3 linked regions of the Homo sapiens genome follow. The protein of the gene in region 1 interacts with the protein of each later gene in a pairwise test. Each region holds a gene or a part of one and is shown in the gene's direction. Other genes may lie near its edges.

The links.
Region 2: the proteins of PKNOX2 (region 1) and CTTNBP2NL interact in binary tests that used the Homo sapiens proteins (3 or more experiments, as listed by UniProt).
Region 3: the proteins of PKNOX2 (region 1) and FAM110B interact in binary tests that used the Homo sapiens proteins (3 or more experiments, as listed by UniProt).

What each region holds. Positions count from the first base shown.
Region 1 is NC_000011.10:125,167,685-125,174,791, forward strand, and holds part of PKNOX2 (homeobox protein PKNOX2), read left to right. Parts: intron 1-7,107.
Region 2 is NC_000001.11:112,399,214-112,406,320, forward strand, and holds part of CTTNBP2NL (CTTNBP2 N-terminal-like protein), read left to right. Parts: intron 1-7,107. UniProt on the Homo sapiens protein: Regulates lamellipodial actin dynamics in a CTTN-dependent manner. Associates with core striatin-interacting phosphatase and kinase (STRIPAK) complex to form CTTNBP2NL-STRIPAK complexes.
Region 3 is NC_000008.11:57,989,520-57,997,527, forward strand, and holds the start of FAM110B (protein FAM110B), read left to right. Parts: upstream 1-5,003; 5' UTR 5,004-5,287; intron 5,288-8,008. UniProt on the Homo sapiens protein: May be involved in tumor progression.

The sequences.
Region 1 (7,107 bases):
GCTCTCTGCTTTTAAGTCTATAGATTGCTTTAAGTTAATGAAAGTGCTGCTTTCAAAAGGGGCTTTTATTGTGTGGCAGTGGCAAATCCAGTACCTCCCCTTTACTCTTCCAAAATGGGCCTGTTTAAAAAGAGGGAGCTTGCTGGATCCCACATGGCAGAGCTTGGGGGAGGGTGCCATGTGACAATGAGAATTAATAAAAGTTAATGTCCAAGTGATTCTGAAAGACGAGTTTGCTTCTTTTCCAGTCCGGTTTCATCTGTTCATTCTCGTGTTGCCTTTGGGCTTTCACTGAGTCTGCCTTTAAATGTTGCTTGGTGCCTCCCCAGCAGCCTCTCCCAGCATTGCTTTAGGTAGGCCTGACCCCTGTTCAGTTAAACCCAAACTGGATTTCAGGATTTCAGCCCAGCTGCCAATTCAAACTGCAACTAAAATATTTACTTGGGACTGGGGGAGGGGCTTTGCCTCGCGTTTAGTAAGATAAATGTGTTTAAATGCCTGGGAACCTTGAGAAGGAACAAGGCAGGCTGTTTTTCAGTGCTTTTTGCTTTTTCAATCTGTTTGGCACAAAAGGTGAGATGACAAGGTTTTTGACTAGGTCCTAACACAGAAACTGCAGTGGGCTCAGGCTGTGGCTTTGACCGCATGTCATAACCATTTAAACTGTGGTTAGTTGTTCAAAGCTCAAAGCTTCTCCAAGCTGGGTTTCATTAACTCTACACCAGTTGCCTGGAAGTTCAGTAGCAATAAATTGTATAAACACATTTGAAGTAAGTTAGTGATGAAATAAGTAGAATTACTGTCTTGTGAGTGGAGAATCCTGAATTCATGGAGTTCTAGCTTAACTGGAAACATACCTCCTCTCCCTTGGCCTTGAAGTTTATGGGTGCACCAGAGTGTGTGTTAAATTTCTTTCTGCCATGTCCATCTTCAACCTGGGCTGTAACTCATTAGAGACCAAGGCATGCCTAGAAAGCAAAACGGCTGGATTTTAAAGGGGTCTCTATTAGCTTGGTTTAGGAATCAAACCAAACCAATTGACCTGACTTCTTTACCTTCCGTGAATCCAACGTGCAACGTAAACAGCAGCAGAGCAGGGGAAAATTAGATGTTTAAATGTTAGAGGCTTAATAATACTGCGTTGTTAGCAATTGAATTTGTTTTTATTAAAGAAACAACCAATAAAATTTATAGGCTTCCAACATGTTGCAAGATTTCCTTGCTATTTATTTAGCTTCCCCCTCCCTACTTTCTGAAATTCTATCTCTAATCTCAGGCTTTTGTTCCCGATTTATTTAATCTGGAGCACATTTTCTAAATTAGTTCGAGGAGGGTGAGAAAGGCTGTTATGAGTTTTCCTTTTTCCTACGCTGTGTGGCACAAGGACTGCGATGCTGTAAGATATATATAAACGTGTGATGCAATTGCTGGAGGTGACGGCATGTGAAGCCAAGTGTCTGGATCAAACAAAACGCAGATCCGAGCATGGAGAGGGTGAAAACGATGCTGCAGAGGAAAAACTGAGGAAGTTCTAATGGAAAATGAAATCATCATGAACCACCGTTAGCCTGAGTCTAGCCAACACACCATGCTTTGTATAAAACACTTCACGTGAGATCCGTGACTTATTGAAGACTGAATTATACTGAGAAGCAGAATTTAGAGGGAGGAGCTCCACGGGCTGGGTTCTATCCAGGCAGCATGGCCAGGATTGTTGCGATGGGGATCTGCTAATTTAATTAAATCTAATACCTGGTGGGAAAGGGAGGAAGGAGGGAGGGAAGTGGTGGGCAGATAATCAAGGTTGGCAGGTCAGCATGCTGAGCTAGTGTTTAGGCTGAAATTTAGTGGCCTGGTCTCTTTTGACTCTGTTATTGCCAGGGCTGCATGACTCCAGTGGGTCATCTAGCTTCTGGGCCTTGGTTTCTTCATCTGTAAAGTGGAATGTATCACACACAGTTCTCACTAGGGTGAGATGATGGGCTTGGATCAAGCACAGGCTGCGCTCTGAGTAAAAAAAATGGGAGATAGAGGCTTCTCAGCAGCAAAGTCACATTCTTCGGTGTGTTTTCTTTCCTCGCCTGGCTCCAGGGCCTTCCCCACAACTCTCAGGAGTTCTTAGGCTATAGTAAAGGGGCTGAATTCCTGCCTTGCATTACATCCTAGAATTTGAAAGGCCTGCTGTGACTCCAAAAACCATCTACACTTTACCAAGAGGGGCAATTTTGGCTGAGTTGGGGGATCCAGCCCGCTTCTTCCAAATGGTGTTACCTGGAATAGCTGTCCTGTATCAGACGAATGCAGAATCTGACTTATCAGAAATGCAGCCCCTTCTCTTTATTCCACTGGGAAGGCAAGGCCTGAGCCCTGACTGGTGTGTGTGTGACATCTGGTCGGCTGAGGGGGTTGGGTGCTGGTCTGCAGCTAGCCACGGCCTGAACCTCTCTTAGCAGTCTCTGCTGGCAGATCAAAGCAGATTCTGGGCCAGAAAGCCCAAGAAGTTACACCCGGCACTTACACAAAACTGTGTGTGCGCTCGTAGACTCCTTCTGTTCCGGTGTCTGATTTGTAAAAGCTAGCTCTGATCCTGGAGACGCGGCTCTGGTGGAATGCTTGTCTTTAATACTCCCTAGTCTTTGGGGATTCCTTGGGGTAATTTTTCCTCCTCATTTCCTTCTCAGCCAATCACAGGCAACATCTTAGTCTCCATTTTGATTGGGGGTGGGAGACAGGGCTGGGGGTTGAGAGAGCAACAGTTGGAGGGCACAGTCTTTCTACCTGAACTCCAGGTTTTCCTCCCGTCCAGAACCCCCAGGAGAGAGGGAGAAGCAAGCCCGGGACAGCTCAGTTCATCTCACGCGGTCAAGCAGAGCTTGAGAAGAGCTTGCTGCAAATGCGTTGTCTTCAAGGGGATCTGCTGTTTGGCTTGGATGCCTCACTGCAGGCCCGGCCTGCCTGGGTTTCTAATTACAAGAAGGACGTTTCTGCTAAGACCTATCTCACTAAAAACACATCCCTGTGTGTAATAAGAAACCCTAAACCAGGCAGGATATTTTAAAACTGAAGCAATGAAGATTAGATTAAGTCTCCACCAAACAGCTTCGTTCTTGTATTATTTTTGGCTGGAATGTGGAGAAAAGCAGCTGGCCCTGGGGCCCAGAGCAGACTCTGGAGAGTTCGGATAGGGCCGGGGTGGGTGGGGTAACTGTTAGTTTTCTGCTTAGTAGGAACGTGGCCAATTTGAGTACGGCTCAGTCAAGGCAGTGGGGGTGCCCAGTGGGGGAGGGGGGAGGCTGGGGTGGAGGAGGAGCCAGATCCAGATGGGCCAGAAAGCGGCCACAGAAGCAGCAGGTCACAGGGCACTGAGGCTTGTAAATCCTCCACCTCATTAGGACGTAGTCTTTTGTGTTCAATTTACATCTCTACTCACATCGCCATCCCAAATCTAGTAGAGAGGGAACAAATAGTTGTTGAGGATTCTTGGAAATAGAACCCAGTAATCGGGCATCATGGGCAGGTGTCCTGCCTTGCTGGGGAGGGGCAGCATGGCATTCACCCATTCCCTTTGTTCTTCCATTCAGCAAATATTTATAGAGCATCTTCTGTGTCCCCGGCACAGTCCTAGGCATTGAGGAGACAGCAGCAAAAACAAAGCCAAGACATTGCCATGAAGCCTGTCCTCAAGGAGCTTGCTTGTGGTGGGGGCGGTGTTGAGTATGGGCTTTATTTAGCATCAGGCAAAACTTCATTTAGAGCCTAGCCCTGCTCTTTACCTGTCATATGGATCTAGACAAGTTGCTTAACATCTTCGATCCAGTTACCCCATTTGTAAATTGGGAAGTAAAAGCACATAGCTCACAGGACTGTTGAGGGGCATCTGTTAAGTCCCTAGCACGGTGTCTGGCACAGAGGAGAGGCTCAGTCATGGTTGACTCTCCTCTGTCATGTTATGTTGGAGCTGATGATCCAGTTGGAGGATTACCCCTTTCCCTTTCCTTTTGCTTCCCCAGAACCTGGCTTGGGCCCTTTTCCAGGTCACTGGCGTCTTCAACCAGCGTTGCACAAATAGCCAGTCAATGCTGTGGCCTGGTGCTGCCTGCTGTGCACAGCCCTGGCAGAGGCTGCAGTAGAAAACAGGTACACAGACCCTGAGGACACTTTGGGGATGAGGGGTGTCTGGGGTTAACAGTAGAGAGGGCACATACAATACACAGACCTGAGAGATGATGGACAGAGAGGTGACGTGGAAAAAGCCACCAACCAGGTGTTAACCACAGGAGACAACAGTGGGGCAGGATGTGGAGTGACCAGGACAGAGTGGAGTCACAGGGCAGACTTCTGGGAGGAAGGGAGCCTCTGCAGAGTGTTAGAGGAGGACTGGCTGAGCGGCTGGCCAGTGGGGGCATGAAACATGAGCCTCCTAGGTCATGGTGCTCTGCGCTGTCCTGGGGACTGCAAGGGAGCAGCCTGGACTAGAAGGAGGAGCTTAGCCCCCTCTACCTATCCCAGGTGGCCAGAAGTGGGCTGTCCCTGCCCCAGGAGCACCAGGTAAGGCCTTGTTGTTTGGGTCCAGTTTCCCTTACACACTGAGGGATTTCCGAGCAGACCTTTCCACGTTGGCTTCTCAATGGGTAGAACTTAGACCAATGAGTTGGTGCATGAGGCAAACAAATCACTTCACTCCTGGTTGCAACATGGCTTTCTTACCTAAGATCCCCTTTTTCCCTAAGCAGAGAGAGCAGAGACTATAGGCCCACATCCAGCCCTCTTCCATCTCAGGAACCATGAAGCTGATTGATATCAGGGTGATCGGGATGGTGGAGAGAAAGGGGGGACTGGTAGTCTGAGCATGGTGGATTCCACTGTGGACTCAGCCACTGACTGACTGTGTGACCTTCAACAAGGGACTTACCTTCTCTGGATGTCAGTGTCCTCACTTATCCAATGAGGAGCTTGAACTTGCTCTCAGAGGTCCCCTTCTACTCAAAGTTCCATGATTCCATATTTCCTCCCAATTGGATTGCTTCGTGGCTTTGTGGCTAGGCAATCATTAAAACCACCGCCACCGCCACAAATCCGAGCAAAGAATCATGATGACATTCAACAGACTGCAGGGGCTTGGCCCCTGTGGTATAGAGTCTTAAGGACAGTGGGGGCCTAGGGGTTGGTTCTGACCCTTCTGATGGCCTGCCTGGGACAAATGGATGTTCCTAGCGATAGGGGATGGCTCCATGAGGCAGCAATTTCAGTCTGAAAACTCACTGGCTTCTTCATAAAAAGCAGCATTTACTTTTCTTGTTGAGACAGCGTGGGGCTAGGGGAAGGAACACAGGCTTTGGAGTCAGATTCTGGGTTCTGACCCTGGTTCTACTACAGCTAAGCAGTGTGCACATCACTTAACCCCTCTGAGCCTCCGTTTTCTTGGCTTTATAGGTGAGGATAATAATACTACCAAGCATATTTAAGACTGCTGTGAAAACTCTGGAAGAAAACATCTGTAAGTGGTTGGCACATGGCAAGCTCATGTTGAATAAATATTAGTCTTCTGTCCTAATAAAGCTCATTCTCACATGCCCTTGTGTGATCCTCTTAGCCTTGTGAAGCAGGTAAAATGGGCATTGTATCATTTTATAGGTAAGAGAAACTGGGGCTCAGAGAGTGGCTAAAGTGGCAGGTCCAGGAAGTGGGTGCAGGTGTGTCTGTGTGTAGCAATGGAGCACATTATTTAGGGTAGCCCAGGCTTATCTTCTATGATGATGGTTCTTCCTTTAGCCTTCTGGAGACAACACAAGCCATTCCTGAGCTCTACCTAGTCCTCTCCCAAGATCTTTCATAAAAGAACCAGCTAAACTCATCTCCTCCATTACTCGAATCTTTGGCAAATGCTGGGAAGAGCTACTGTTGTGAAAACCAAAGTCTAGAAGATCTGTTTTTTACTTCCACAAAGTCTTCAGTCTCAGGTGGGGCTGGGAGGGCCCGCACTAAGAGGCAGAGGTAGATTTAGGAGCAGGGGATATCTCATGGCTATGAGTGGGGGCAGCGAGGCTGCAGTGTGGCCTTGGTCTGCCAGCCCAGGTGTAAGCTGGACCCCTGGGTGGAAAGAATTCCCTCGGGGGCTCGTGCCCGTGGTCATCAGCTCACAATCCAGACAGATGTCAAGCCGACAAACACCAAGGGGAGTTTAGCCCGTTAGTGGTAGCATCTGTCTAATTCCTATTAGGTAAGGGGAGGGCACAGGCTCTCTGGGTTCCAGCGTAGCACAATGGGTCTGTGCTGGAGTAGTGGCAAGTGAGCCCTACCCCAGAGCTTCCCCTCACGGTCCTCAGTCCACAGTGCATTGTTAAGGAATGGATGCTCCTCTGTACCAAGTCCTGTGCTAGGTCTAAATGTGATGTGACCCCTCCTTCTGAGGAGCTGTCCTGCCTTCCTCCCAGGAGACCTTCCTCTGTGGAGATTGTCAGTTCTATCTCCAGGTCCAGGGCAGGGAGACAGACGCCCAGAGAGTCAAGTGTATGCCCCGGGCCCAGGGGCGACAGGTGCTTGTTCTCATTCTCATTTCCTCCCTAAGAATCCACCTGTCAACAGGTGTGGCCTGAACCCACTATTTAATTAGTGCCCATTAGCATGCTGTGGGGAACACTCAGTGGCCTCATCCTCTAGGAGCTACATATTTTTGATGAGGAGACCAAACAAAACGCATGTGAAATTGAGAACAAGCTATATGACCTTGACTCATCTCTTAACTTCTCTGGATTTCAGAATCCTCATTTTATACAATGAGCAGGTTATCCTTGGCTCTCTTCAAGCCCCTTTCAAGTCTATTCTCCTACGACTGTCTGGGCTGTACATGCGAGGTCCATCAGGCACCATGAGTTTGTAGAAGGTGATAGGACACCAGAGAACACCTAGCCCAGCAGTGGGAAGGCTGTCTACCTGTAGGCAGGTGAGTGGGTGGGAAGATATATTGCAGAGGTAGCTGGCCTCATTTATTTGTCTGCAGGGGCCGGGAGAGTGCTTGTTGAGAGGGACCCTGCAGAGTCCCCCAGCTTCCAGGAGGGTCAGGGGGACAGAAATCAGGCAGGAGAGCCTGGCAGAGTGGGAACTCAA
Region 2 (7,107 bases), on another chromosome or scaffold:
GAGGCTGAGGCAGCAGAATTGCTTGAACCCAGGAGGCAGAGTTTGCAGTGAGCTGAGATTGCACCACTGCGCCCCGGCCTGGGAAACAAAGCGAGACTCTGTCTCAAAAAAAAAAAAAAAAAAAAAGAATAGTTTCTGAGTGTTTGGTTTTGACAAGTTATTGATCTACTTTGGGACTTTTAAAATGGATTTTTAGTTGATTTTGTGTTTTTAAAGTAACACTAAAAATAGGAACGGAGCACAGAACAGCCTTGGGTCCCTAAGTGTAATTATACAGGCTGATTATTGATTGTGGTGGGCATAATACAATCAGTCTTCTCTGGATTTGTATCTTGGCAGAATCACATTTGCAGTGCTACCAGTTGATTTGCAGCGTAGGATTTGAATTCTTGGTTTTTCTGAGTGGAGCAGAATGGTGTTTCTTGGGGGTTTCCATCTAACTGGTGTTTGACGTCATGAAGCAGGAAGCAGAGATATGCTTCTAGAGGAAATTTGTTCAGTCTATGCTGGTTGGCCCCAGGAGTGGCTTATTAGCATGTTTTCTAAAGGCCATTTTAAAATTTCTGAATATTTGGCCGAGCATGGTGGCTCACACCTGTAATCCCAGCACGTTGGGACATTGAGGCAGGCAGATCACCTGAGATCAGGAGTTTGAGACCAGCCTGGCCAACATGGTGAAACCCCTTCTCTACTAAAAATACAAAAACTAGCCAGGCATGGTGATGGTCACCTGTAATCCCAGCTACTCGGGAGCCTGAGGCAGGAGAATGGCTTAAACCCAGGAGGCGGAGGTTGCAGTGAGCCGAGATCACGCCATTGCACTCCAGCCTGGGCAAGAAGAGAGAAACTTCATCTCAAAAAATAAAAAATTAACAAAATTAAAGTTTCTGAATATTTGCTGCTAATAACTAAAATTTAAATCTTCCAAAGTTCAATTTAAAGCCTTTTAGTGAGAAAATGGCTTACTTATCATGAGCCTGGAGAATGTAATTATTTACAACACAGACTTTAAAGGCAAACCTAGGTTCAAATCCCAACTGTGCTACTGTTCACTGTGTGATCCAGGGCAAGAGAAAAATTTTCTGTCTTCACCGTAGCTCAGTCTGTTTCCTCAGCTGTGAGATAGAAATAACTTGGAGAGGTTTCTTTAAGGATTACACGAATAGGCCAGGTGCGGAGGCTCACACCTGTAATCACAGCACTTTTGGAGGCCGAAGCGGGTGGATCGCTTGAGGCCAGGAGCTCGAGACCAGCCTGGCCAACATGGCAAAACTCTGTCTCTACTAAAAATACAAAAATTGCCAGGTGCAGTGGCTCACCTGTAATCCCAGCACTTTGGGAGGCCAAGGCAGGCGGATCACCTAAGGTCAGGAGTTTGAGACCAGCCTGACCAACATGGAGAAACCCCATCTCTACTAAAAATACAAAATTAACAGGGTGTGGTGGCACATGCCTGTAATCCCAGCTACTCCGGAGGCTGAGGCAGGAGAATGGCTTTAACCCGGGAGACGGAGGTTGCAGTGAGCCAAGATCGTGCCATTGCACTCCAGCCTGGGCAACAAGAGCGAAACTCTGTCTCAAAGAAAAAAAAAAATACAAAAATTAACCAGGCATGGTGGCACGTGCCTGTAGTCCCAGCTACTCAGGAAGCTGAGGCATGAGAATTTGCTTGAACCCAGGAGGTGGAGGTTGTAGTGAGCTAAGATTGTGTCACTGCACTCCAGCCTGGGTGACACAGCAAGACTCTGTCACCAAAAAAAAAAAAAAAAAAAAAAAAGGATTACATGAATATACACACATACACGTGCACATATCACAAAGCAAGGTACCCAGGATATAAGAAGCACTTAGTAATTGACAGGTATTATTATTAGCACTTGGCATGTGAGTTAAAGAATTTAATATTCAACATTATTTTACCCCTTCAGCATTTTAGCAAAGGTGAAGACTTAGTGTTGGATTTTAGTTATTGATTGGTTTTGTTTTAAATTTTTCAACATATGACTAAGTCCTGAATAGAGGGAAACAAAGCTTGTTTGCATATGTCATGATCTCAAGCATCTGAGCCAAAGATTTTTAGGAGAGTGTGTATCTGTCTTGGAGTGTGTGTATTTAATAATTTTGTCATGCAGATTATCTTTCTTGAGTTTTTTGGTCCAAGGAAAAAAGAAAGGCAAGGGATTCAGCTAGCCGATGTCTTCTTTCTGAATTGTCAGTTGCTCCACTCTAAGCTCTACTATCTTTAAGTAGCATCATCCTGAATGTCATATAAATGGTTTTGTAGATACTGTGATTACCGTGCAGAGTTATACCTTCTGTGAAATTTAAGGGACTTTTAATGGTAATTTTGATTAAAAGTGGTTTTTACCTTACTTTTGAAGACAGCCTCCCCCACTGTCCTCAAAGTAAGGAGCGATGATAGGAACAACCAAAACTGGAGTGAGAAGAAAACATGGATAGGGGAGTTGAGTAGAGGTGGGGGAACATGAAAGGCGGGAGTTTGTGGGTTGAAGAAAACAAGACTACAAAGAGGCATTGAACTAGATAATGCAATGCGCTGTAATATGGCTCATCTTTGCCAGTTATTTCCAAACTCTGCATTTCAGGTACAGAGCCAGAACTTCCAATCTAAATGTGTCATTTGCTGTTTAATGAATCCTTTCTGACTTCTGGAGCCACAAAGAATATAGTTCTCAATTGTTACTGAATTTAAAGAATGCAACCCTTAATTGTTACTGAGTTTAATAGAAACAAGAAAGGAAAATAGGAAAGCACAGGATGATGGGGTGGGTCTACAGACAAAGACTCCTGACCGTGAGCTTCGGGAGCATCTGCGTAGATTCTTTGTGCAAAACTGCTGGGAAAGGCTAGGCTGAAGCTGAAGTGTGCTCTGGGTCTACTCACCATAGAAAGGTGAGAGCCAGGCCAGGCATGGTGACTCACGCCTGTAATCCCAGCACTTTGGGAGGCTGAGGCAGGTGGATCACCTGAGGCTGGGAGTTCAAGACCAGCCTGACCAACATGGAGAAACCCCGTCTCTACTAAAAATACAAAATTAGCCAGGCATGTTAGCACATGCCTGTAATCCCAGCTACTCGGGAGGCCAAGACAGGAGAATCGTTTGAACCCAGAAGGCGGAGATTGTGGTGAGCCAAGATCGCGCCATTGCACTCCAGGCTGGGCAACAACAGTGAAACTCCATCTCAAAAAAAAGAAAAGTGAGAGCCAGGGAAGGAGAACAGAAAGTAGAAGCAGGGATAAATTGTTTTAACACGAGATAAGAATTGTAAGTTATAATGGAGAGAAGGATGAAAGATAACTGACAGGTAAGTTATAGGAAAAAGAAAGAAGCACAAACTGGGTTTTTTGTTGGAGAATGGGGGCTCCAGGGAGGCCCTCATTACTTGGTTTCTGCTAAATAGTCCTTTCTGTTACAGCAGGTGCTACAGAAGTAACAACAGAACCAATCTAGTTCTTAACTGACTTAATGTTTGAGGGTATAACAATGATCTGGTCTAGCCCTATATATCAGTTTCATCTTGTTGCCTCTTGTCCTTAAATTGAGGGCACAGAATAAATTTCCTTAAAAGGCTCTATCCCCAAAGACTTCTTCACTTCTAAACCCTTAGCCATCACCACACTAACAGACTCTTAACACGTTCCTCTTGGGGGTCAAATAACTTCTCATTCAGCCTGTCTCGTATCACAGTCATCATTTCCCCAGTAAACCCAGTTCCATTTCTAACATCCCTGTTTTTGCTAATGGTATCATCATTCTAGTCACCCAGTCTCAAAACCTCAGCTGATCTGGGATTATTTCCCCTCTTACCTCCCTAAATGAAAATCCGTCATTTACTGTAAGTAAATTCTTAAATAACTAAGTAAATTCTTTTTAATGTCTCTTTTGTCAGTCTCTTCCATTCTTATTGCTACCATCCTAGTTCATACATTTTTGCCTCATACCTATGCTGTTAAATTTTTTTCCCGACTACTCTTTCTGTTTCCATTTTCTCTTCAGTCAAGTCAGCCCTGTACTGTAAGCATTAACTTTCCTAAAACTATGCTTTTGTTATGATTTTCACCAGGTTAAAAATGTTGAGTGGCTTCCCATTTTCTAAAAGGTAAAGTCCAGTTGTGTTGGCTGAGATTGAAAGTGCTGTACATTTCTTTCCAACCAGCATTTTTTCAGTATCTGAACCAGACACTGCTAGTGCTAAGTGTGATCAAGTTGAATAGACAGAGTAGTTGTTCAGATGAGTTCAGAGTCTTGTGAGACAGAAGACAGATATGTAAACAGATGAATTGATGTAATAGAATGTGATAACTGCTCTTGAATTACGAATGTAGATACATATCCATTATGCATTTAATTTAATGTAAAAAAATAGCTGTGATATTTTCAGGAAACCCATTTCTCAGTCATCACAAGTTAAAGTTGTGACTTGATTAAAACCTGTTAAAATTCAGTGGAAGCAAAGGTATGCGTTTACCTGTATGCTAAAGGCACAAAAAACTAATCTAAGCAGAAGGCTGGCCTTTTCTTTTCCCAAGTATTGTGCAGATACAATTGGCTTGAACATGTCTCTAAACTGACTTTCCCAGGAACTGGCCAGGCCATCTCTTTCTTTTTGGTGCAGATCAACCTGCCAGAAGTCAGAAGTAAACTTGTTTTGGTTTGTAAATTAGACACGTGAATGATAGACAATGATGACCCATTGGAAAAGGAAAACTTCATTATCCTTGCAGATGAAACCAAAAAGTATGCTCTTTAAGGATGAGAAATGAGAAGCTGACCAGTCACTAACTCATTTAAACCATGCAGCCTCCTGTTACAGTATGTATTGTTATGTCCATTTTATAGCTAAAAAACTGAAGTTCAAAGGTTAAATGGATGAAAGAGCAAGTGGCAGAGCCAGGATGCAAACTCAGCTCTGTCAGATTCCAAAATCCATGTGCTTTCCACTATAACATACTGTCTCCCAGCAGAATTACTGTCCCTGAAGAACCATAGAACAACAATTGCCAGGCTTGTTGTTGGAAATATTCAACTGATACTCAATTGTTAAATTTTTTTTAAGTCAGTTATCTGTCTTAGAAGACAAAACAACATCACGAGTTTTATTTCTGCTAGAGGATTATTTGAAGTTTTTTTTGCAGTTCAGATAAAGTCAGGTTATGGGCATCGCTAAAACACAGATTCCTTAACTGTTTGATGGTTAATCCTTCATACCATACTCTGGAGTTTCTCCCCAGTGTGGAATCTTAGTGGAATCAATGACGTCATCATCCTACATTAGCATTTGAAGGGTTTGCATTCCAGGCTGCCTCTAGAATTGTGGCCCATGAATCATCTTACTGAAAATAATCAATCTACATGTTATTGTTCCCTTGTGGTATTTTACAAGTTATGGTGGCATTATTTCAGAAAAGCAAAAATTTAGGGGACTGATGGACAGATAGACAATAGAGACGGTCAGATACATATTTGATTGAAATCATGTTACAATTTCATTTAAATGAAATAAAGCCATCTAACAAATTATATAGAAATGATTCAGCCGGGTGCAGTGGCTCACGCCTGTAATTCCAGCACTTTGGGAGGCCGAGGTGGGCGGGTCACTTGAGGTCAGGAGTGCCAGACCAGCTTGACCAAAATGGAGGAACCCCGTCTCTACTAAAAATACAAAATTAGCCAGGCATGGTGGCACAAGCCTGTAATCCCAGCTACTTGGGAGTCTGAGGCAGGGGAATCTCTTGAACCAGGAGGCGGAGGTTGCGGTGAGGCCGAGGTTGCGGTGAGCCGAGGTTGCGCCATTGCACTCCAGGCTGGGCAACAAGAGCAAAACTCCATCTCAAAAAAAACAAACAAAAAAAATGTAATGTTTCAGTTTCCTGGTAATAATATTCTGATGTTAAAAGACATATCTTTTTTAAAATGTTCAATGATAAAAAATTTATTAATATAAAAGTTGTTATTCATTTTCATTAACATCCATTCCAGTAGCTTAACTAATGTAGTTCTAGTTTGGCCTTGTCTCAGATGAGAATACCTGAGATGGTGTAAACAGATATCCAGGTAGACAGACCTTTTGTTCTTGTTTTGAGATAGAGTCTTGCTCTGTCTCCCAGGCTGTAGTGCAGTGGTGCAATCTCAGCTCACTGCAACCTCCACCTCCTGGGTTCAAGCGATTCTCTTTCCTCAGCCACCTGAGAAGCTGGGATCACAGGTGTGCGCCACCATGCCCGGCTAATTTTTGTATTTTTAGTAGAGATGGGGTTTCACCATGTTGGCCAGGCTGGTCTTGAACTCTTTATCTCAGGTGATCTGCCTGCCTCGGCATTCCAAAGTGCTGGGATTACATGCGTGAGCCGCTGCACCCAGCCCAGACCTGTTTTTAATAGCTTTGCACTAATGTTCTCATTTGAGGGAAGAGATATCTGAATGTTTGTTTATGGGCATAAGGCTACTTCCTTCTTTTCTTCAATATACATATAAATCTTGCTGACATCATATATGAGAGACAGAGAAAGAGATGTGTACACACACACACTTACACATTCACACATTCACACTCACAGAGAGATATAGCAGAGTTGCATGAGTCTTAGAACTAAACAAAACAAAAACCTGATACCTATTATGTTGTCCCAGAAAGCGAATTAAACTGGATCTTAAAAAGACATGTATGCGGCCGGGCGCAGTGGCTCACGCCTGTAATCCCAGCACTTTGGGAGGCCGAGGCAGGTGGATCACGAGGTCAGGGGTTCGAGACCAGCCTGACCAACATGGTGAAACCCTGTCTCTACTAAAAATAGAAAAATTAGCTGGGCGTGGTGGTGGGCACCTGTAATCCCAGCTACTTAGGAGGCTGAGGCAGGAGAATTGCTTGAACCTGGGAGGCGGAGGTTGCAGTGAGCCGAGATCGCGCCATTGCACTCCAGCCTGGGTGACAAAGTGAGACTCCGTCTCAAAAAAAAAAAAACGTGTGCTAGACCTAGTTCTATTTAACTGTATTCACATTAACAACTCTGGCCTCAGTACTCATCTGTAGAATGAGAGTGCTGAATTAGATTATTGCTGAGGCTCCTTCCAGCTTTGTGAATCGT
Region 3 (8,008 bases), on another chromosome or scaffold:
AACATAAAATTTTGGAGTCACTGGCGAATCAGTAGTAGTTGAAAACATAGAATTGGAAAATCAAAAAACCAATAGGGAGAGGAAATGGACAGACAGAAGTAGGCTAAAGGCAGAGCGTTAGCAAACACCATACTTTGGCCAATGGCAAGTAGGTACTCTGCAGAAGCAAAGACTAAAGGTGAGAACTGAGATGACACAGGAAGAAGAGAAGCACAGCTCCCCAGCATGGCATTCCGGTGCCTTGCAGGTGGTCTCCTGACCCTGCATGCCTCACAGAGGCACTCAGTTCAGTACAACCTGCTGATTAAGGCTGGCACAGAAACATATTACCCGTTTTAGAAAGAATTTCATCAAAACAGTTAACATAAAAGGGTTGGGGTAATTTACTTGGAAAACTCACTCATGAAGAACACTGCCTTAATTGATGATGATACTGATAAATCTGAGCAGCATCCGAGTCATCGAATAGAACTTTCTGCAATGATGGAAGCATTTATCTGCGCAGTCCAACAGGGCAGCCATCAGCTGCCTGTGGCTACAGAGCACTTGAAAAGTAGCCAGTGTAGCTGAGAAACTTGCAATTTATTCTCATTTACAAAATAAAGTTTTTAATTCAATGAATTTAAACTAAATGTCATGAGGCTGGATGTGGTGGCTCACTCCTGCAATCCCAGCAGTTTGGGAGGCCAAGGCAGGTGGATCGCCTAGTTCGAGACCAGCCTGGCCAACATGGTGAAACCTCGTCTCTACTAAAAGTAAAAAAAAACTTTGCCAGGCGTGGTGACACGTGCCTGTAATCCCAGCTACTTGGGAAGGTGAGGCAGGAGAATCTCTTGAACCCTGAAGTCTGAGGTTGCAGTGAGCTGAGATCATTGCACTCCAGCCTGGGCGACAGGAGCGAAACTCCCTCTCAAAAAAAAAAAAAAAAAAAGGAATTAATTAATTAATTAACTTAATGTAATGAATGTAAATTCCACAAAATTTTAATTCATTTAAATTTCAATAGCCTCATGTGACTACTGCTCTCTTATTGTATAGGTAATATGTGAGATTCATTGGCAAGCTTGGCTTATAGTAAAGATATGTAGGCTTTGGGATCACATGGGCCAGGCTTTAAGTCCTCTAATCACTAACTCTGTGATCTTGGATTTGTCTCTTTCCTGGGCATGAACTTCTTGTTCATAAAATGGTAATCAATATTATGTACATTTAGGGCCGTTGTGACCACTGAAAATGAAAATGAAACATATAAACTGCTAGCACAAAGTTTCAATAAATGGTAGTTATTAGTATTAAATGATGGAGGTCAGCATTCAAGAACATAATTCGATCGTTTTGATCTTCTGGTCGCCAGCCTGAACATGCACTACGCTGAGAAACAAGCAACATGAGGGAACCCCCAGGGGCTGTTGCCCAGGATGGAGTGGAGTGGCCTCTTAGTCCAGCAACTGACAATGCTTTTCTATTTAGTGACTCTCTTATCTCAGCCTTGCTGTGAGCTGCCTTTTTTCAGTGTGATTGCTTCTAGCAAATCCTCCAGCTCCTCCTAAGGTGCATTCCTCGCTGCTTTTTTCTATTTCCTCAGAAGAACTATGGTTGTTAAGGGGAAAAGACAAATTGAGCTTGTTCAATCAATAACTTTAATTTTACATACAATTCTAAGACAATGGAGTCTGATCTGAGGGCTGAGGGGTTCTCAAGTCTTTTTCTGTGGAATTAAGAGCACAGATTCACAGACTTTGTTTACCTTAGCCCTGCCAGATCGCTACAATCTCTTGGGCAGATCTTTTAAAAAAAAAACAACACAGGCCTATCCGTTCTCCCTCAACCTAGAGACCTGGCATTAGTTGGGAGTACTGCAGGTGATTGTGTTTCGTGGTCTGAAAACCGCTGATGTATGCCAGGATTTCAGGGGGAGCTCTGGACAGACAGGGTGGTCTGACTGACCCTGGGTTAATTGAGGGACTGCTGTACCACTCTTAGGCAAGAAAATGGGTACAAGCATCCCACTGATCCAATACAGGCATGCTGGGGGTACTCTGGATATTTGACTGACATTTTCCCTGGCATAGCCAATCATTAGAACAAGTGCCACTTGGAGCGGGGACTGGATTCCAGAACTCTTTATTTTTTTACTTTTCCTCTGAAGCTGCTTTGGTTGTTTTGTTTTCAGAGATGCTCTCCTTTTGTGAGGCTTGCATCTGTTTATAATATGTTATTATTCAGCTTACGGGCTTTTATACATTTAAAGTTTCCCTAGTTGTTGACACAACTTAGGTACGTACCCATCTGGAGAAAGACTAGTGAAAACTCTGAGCTCATGTCTTTTCAAGCTCACATTTTCCCGTAAGAAACCATTTTGGCAGTCAGAGGATTAGAGCTAATAACTGCATGTCCCTAGGCTCCCTGCTTGCTAGGAATAGTCCCACTGTCCAGAGTCACCTGTGAATAATGGTTAAATTACATTCTGATTCGTGTATGGATGCTTGTTTGGGTACTAGTCAAATATTGTTACATACTTTTAGAGACAGAAACCTCTGTGAAACAAAAGAATTCCAAGCCTAGGATAATGGCCCACTTCTGAAGAATAAACAACACAATAAAATTCTAGTACAAACAACTAATTTCAACATTCTCTGAAAATCTGTAGCAGTCCTTAACATTTTCAGTCCCCAAAACAAGAAAACTATGTCCTAAATCAGCAAACATTAGGGATTATGAGAGCAGTTTTATTGGCATAATTGATAAGACAATATTTACTGAAATATTCCAGCATAGATGTTTTACTGTGTTCTCTCTGTCTCTTTAACCACATCTTTTATTGGTTTTTGGTTTTGGTGATGACAATTTGGGGCTATTAAATCTACACTGGGCAATAGTAAAACCCTAAATGAGAACCTTAATAATAAGAGTTAGGGGTCCTACTAAGTGAACTCCTTGGCATATACTTTATTATCAAGAAGTAGTTTAGGCAATAGAAAAGCTAAAACTTGGTCGGCGCAGTGGCTCACGTCTGTAATCCCAGAACTTTGGGCGCCTGAGGCAGGTGGATCACCTGAGGTCACGAGTTCCAGGCTAGCCTGGCCAACATGGCAAAATCCCGTCTCTACTAAAAATACAAAAATTAGCTGGGCGTGGTGGCCCGTGCCTATAATCTTAGCTACTCGGGAGGCTGAGGCAGGAGAATTGCTGAACCCAGGAGGTGGAGGTTGCAGTGAGTGGAGATCATGCCACTGCACTCCAGCCTGGGTGACAGAGTGAGACTCTGTCATCAAAAAAAAAAAAAAAAAAAAAAAGAAAGAAAGCTAAAACTCATTGGTTACATTCCTGATTTTCAAAGCATCGATCATAGGGGAATCTTTTATGATTTTATAAGTGAGTCTTCTGGAAAGAAACTTAACTCAAAATGGCATAAGCAAGAAAGACAATTTATTGGTGCATTACTTCAGAAGTTCAGGATTTGACTGGTTTTAGAGGTGACTGTCTTCGGATGGCCATTGATGTCATCAGGGCACTTTTCTGTCTCCATTGCTCAGTTTGGCTTTTTTTCTGGTTTTGTTTTATTCTCCAGTAAGTTGACTCCAGCTGCTGCACGCATATATGATATGGTCCCAGGAGCTGCCCTGTCAGTCAGGGAAAGGACCCTCCTCCTTTGTTCTCAGACGATATTCTAATTGGCTGGCCTGGGTCATATCCCTCACAATGTCAGGAAGCTCTGTGGGCTAGTCACACCCAATGGGAGGGGGAAATTCCTAAAAGGAAGGGATTGGGGCAAAGAAGTGGGGAAAAAAAGTATACTTGAGAGGGAGAGAAGTTGGTTCCATTTGCTATGGGAATGATGAAAAATAGTTTATTTCTATTGTTATATGACTTTTGGAGTTAATGGAGACCACAACGTAATCTGTGATAACAAGGAATGTATTAGTATGCCAAAGGAAAGTTCCATTTAAATCCCAGTATCATGTCACTTTCTTAAAATGGTAATCTTTAAATAGAAAAAAAATATATTATTATAAAGTCTGAGTTTTATTTAGTTGGCAACTTCTTAACTATTATGAAACAATAGATTCATTGAATTGAAGCACAATTCAAATATAAACGATCTTTCTGAGAAAATGAGATGAGTGAAATCGTATTGTTAATGTACCAGAGATTAAAAAGAAATCCTTGCTCAATATTTTCTAGAAGAAACAATTATTTTGTGAGTCCATATCCCATTCAAATTCATTTTGATAAAGATGGATTTTATCTTTTAGACTTCCCAATAGCAAAATTAAATTACAATGTGTTTAGTCTTCCTAAAACAAATCCTCTCCTGAAACAACCAAGTTATTAAGCAAATCTAAGCAGAAAGTATTCTCAAATACTATATTAGGCGATTAATAATGACGCACCCCAAAGCATTTCATTTTAAAACATCAGCTGGCCCACATTTCAGAGGTAGTACATCATGCTTGATATTTTTCGTTATTTACTATTTTCTCCAAACATTTTTTTGAAGTCTTAAAAATGCCTTCAGAAATTAAGCTAGGACGCTCCATCTGAGTATATGAAAGTTAGTAAACAGAAAATGTCAAGCACCAAGACGTTTGGATGGCTGGACTACCAGGTGGGGTTATCTCATTCAGGGCACAGGCTCTACGTCTCCAGTGCTGAGCGATCTGCACTGGGGTGGCAGTCCGAGATCCAGCGGTATCACCGGGTGGGAGCAGGGTGGGGGTGCTTGCGTGCGGACATAGGTGGGAGTGGGGGATAGGGAGGAAATGGAGGCGCCGACCGAGTGGAATGGGGGGTGGGTCAGGGATGGGGTGGGATGGGCATCAGTAGCGGGGTGGAGATGTTGAGAGAGAGGCAGGGCTTGGAGTGGAGGTGCGAGAAGGGTGGGGACCCGGAAGGTGGGGTGGGGGCGGGATGGAGGCGGGGCGGGGTGTACGAGGGGCGTGTACACTGGCTCAGGGACACGCGCTCTCGGCCACAGCAACTGGCTCCAAGTTCCCTCCCTCACTCTCCGGCGAAGCCTGCCTGAGCCCTCCCACTCGGTGCAGACCGAACCATCGCGGCCGCCGCCAGCCGGGCCCTTCGCGGCCGCGCGTCCTGGGCCCGTTCCGCCAGCCCCGTCTGCTCTCTACCCGCGGCCCCGCGGCGGCGACCGTGAACACTCGGCGGCCCCTACAGCCCGCTCTCGGCCCTTCGTCCCTCGCGGGCCCCGACTCTCCCTCCTTGCAGTCCCCCGGAGCCTGGCTCCCGGCTCGGGCCGCACCGCCAGGGACTGGGGTGAGCGGCCCAGGTAAGACTGGGCCGTGGGGGCCGGGAGAGAGACTGCTGGGCGGGGGTTGGGATTCGGGTTCAGTGGTCGCGCCGCGCCCCGACTGCGGACAATGCGGGAGCTGCGCGCGGCCAGGCGGCGCGGAGCTAAGCCGGCTCTGCGCCTGCAGCTTCCCCGCCCGGCCCGGGTCTCCGTTGAGCCCGGCCTCACTGGCCCAGGCGGACCCCGTCCGGCTTTCTGGGCTGCCGGGGGAGGCGCAGCGCCGCTGCCTGCCCCGCGCCCCCTCTGCGCTCGGCTTGGCTGCACGTCCCGGGCTCGGCTAGGAGGCTGGGCACGGGGCCGGGGCTGGAGCCGGGGTTGGAGCCAGGGCGGGGGGAAGCTGGCCGCGCTGCGGAGCGGAGGTGGGCTCCGAAAGCGCGCCGCCGGTTGCTGCTGGAGGAGTGGGACTACGAAGGATGGGGACTCCGCTCGGCCACCGCTCCTGAATGGTCTCTAATCTCGGTGTTAAATACTTTATGAGAGTATCAATACCACCTAATCCTTTGCTGAGAATTACTGCTAGAAATGTAGATTCTGAGGTTCCGAAAGTTTGTTTTTGGTTACCCCCTCCAGCTCCTCCCGTGGCCTCAATTGTCTCTATTTTCTTTGAAAGCATACAGATTTGAAATAGAATTAAATTCTCCTTGGCTCACTCGTGTCTCCATCACCCAGCGGAGCTCATAACTTGGCAACAAAGCCCATACAGGCTGTGGGAAGCCGCGATGCCTGCTGCCCAGCCTGGTGCCCTCCTATTGTTTAGAGCTGGAGCTGTACAGTGTAAATGGCAGTGACAGGTCTCCCTTAAGCTGGCTCGTGGGGAAGGAAGGGAGATAACTTTGCAGTGTGCTTAAATTACTCTGGAAAGTGGAAAGAAAACACCTGGTGCTCAGCTTTTTAACCCTTTCAAGTTGTTATTCAGATTTATTGACACACACACACAGAAAAGTGCAGGCTTTCTTTCCTGCCTAAAAAATAGGCAACCTCTGTGTTCTTCCTCACAGCCAACTTATGTCCTCTGCAAAATCTGGCACACATCTGTGACAACATTGCACTTCTGGCGTAACTGGTCTATTTCTCAAAAGGGAATATGATAGTAGAATAAGCATTTTTGCAGTATGGATAGTAGGACTTCCATTTTCTTCGTTTCCTTTGTTGGTGAAGAAGGTATTTATTATTTTCCCCCCAGTTTACACGTAGTGATTTCTGGGAAGATACTTGTATTAATTTCTTGTACTCATTTTTGTGACATCACAACCCCTGGTCATTCAGGTAAGCTATTTATTAAGCATAGTTATTCTAGAATAAAGGTGAGTTAATGGTAAACTAGAATCCTTCACTGATAACATCCCATTGGTTTACCCTACGGTATTTAATCTGTAGTATTACTATAGATTGTACATGTAAAGTCACTAATTGAACAGAGAGGTGGTTGGTGCCTTGTTAGCCTGACATAAAGTGCTTAGAACAGTGCCTTGCATATAGTTCTAGGTGTCAGCTAATATTACTTTTAATTTTTCTTATCAAGCTATGTGTTATTTTCTGTTTGGAAAATGGTCGTTTTGATTTTTAAAATTCTGATCTGTTAGGTCATGATCTATTTTAAGTCTGTGGTTTTAATTTTAGATCAGGGCTGAGGTTGGGTTGTTATTATGCCTATGACTGACAGGCTTCTCTGCGTATCCTTATGCATGGTGAGGGTTGATTTAATTCATCTTATATATTGGATCTCTAAGGGCAAGACATCAGTCTTGAACCCAGTCATGCCCTGGTGCCTTTCATAAGGAGACCTGGTTGTCTTTAAGAGCCTAATTGTTTAAAGAGAGGCCTCCACATTAGGGAAGACCTGGGCTCTGAACCCCATTCCTTACCTCCCCTGCACTCCCTTGTTCTCTAGGTTTAGAATCCCACTTCCAATTCCCAATGGAAAGAACCGTTGGTACAGCAGAGTTAAGTAACTCTCACAGTGTTAAAAGATGATAAAAGATAAATATGTCTACTGTATATACAACAACCAGAGCATTTAATTCTTTTTCATGCTTTAAAATATTTTAGAGCAGGATTTATAGCCTAACTAGCTAAGATAAGAAAACTCACTTATTTAAAACTACTTATTTGCCATGTGTTAGTAACCAAAGATTGTGTTTCCTATTTAGATATTTTAAATGATTGTCAGGAGTTTACTCTTATTTCATGTTCTCCTTTCCCCTTTAACTTTGAAGTGACTTTTTAAAAAATCGTGATTCCTAAATAACTTAGCTAAGCGAAGGCATGGTATTAACTCTTAGGGCCCTGCAGAAGCAAAACTGCTGTAGGCACAGTGGCTTGGCAGTAGATGGTGCTGTGGACAAGGCTGGTGGAGGAGGCATATGTATGGTCTAGTAGAATCCCAGGGATTAATTTAGCAATCCCATTGTTTGCTGCCCCCCAAAACATACTCTTACCAACCAGACACTGTCCAACAATCTTTTTGGGAATACAGTTTGTTTTTAAATTTGTACTTTATATGTTCAACATTTGTAGACTATTGGCCATTTTTCTGTCTGAAAGCCATCGCATTTTAGGTGCTAGACAAACATTGCTTGTAAAAATATTATTATGAAACTGTTCACTTTATTTTATTTTCCCATTGTAGAGTCAGATTGATCAGCTGAGCCTAGAGATCTCCAACTAATCTGAACTTTTTTTCATACTTAACTTTTTAGG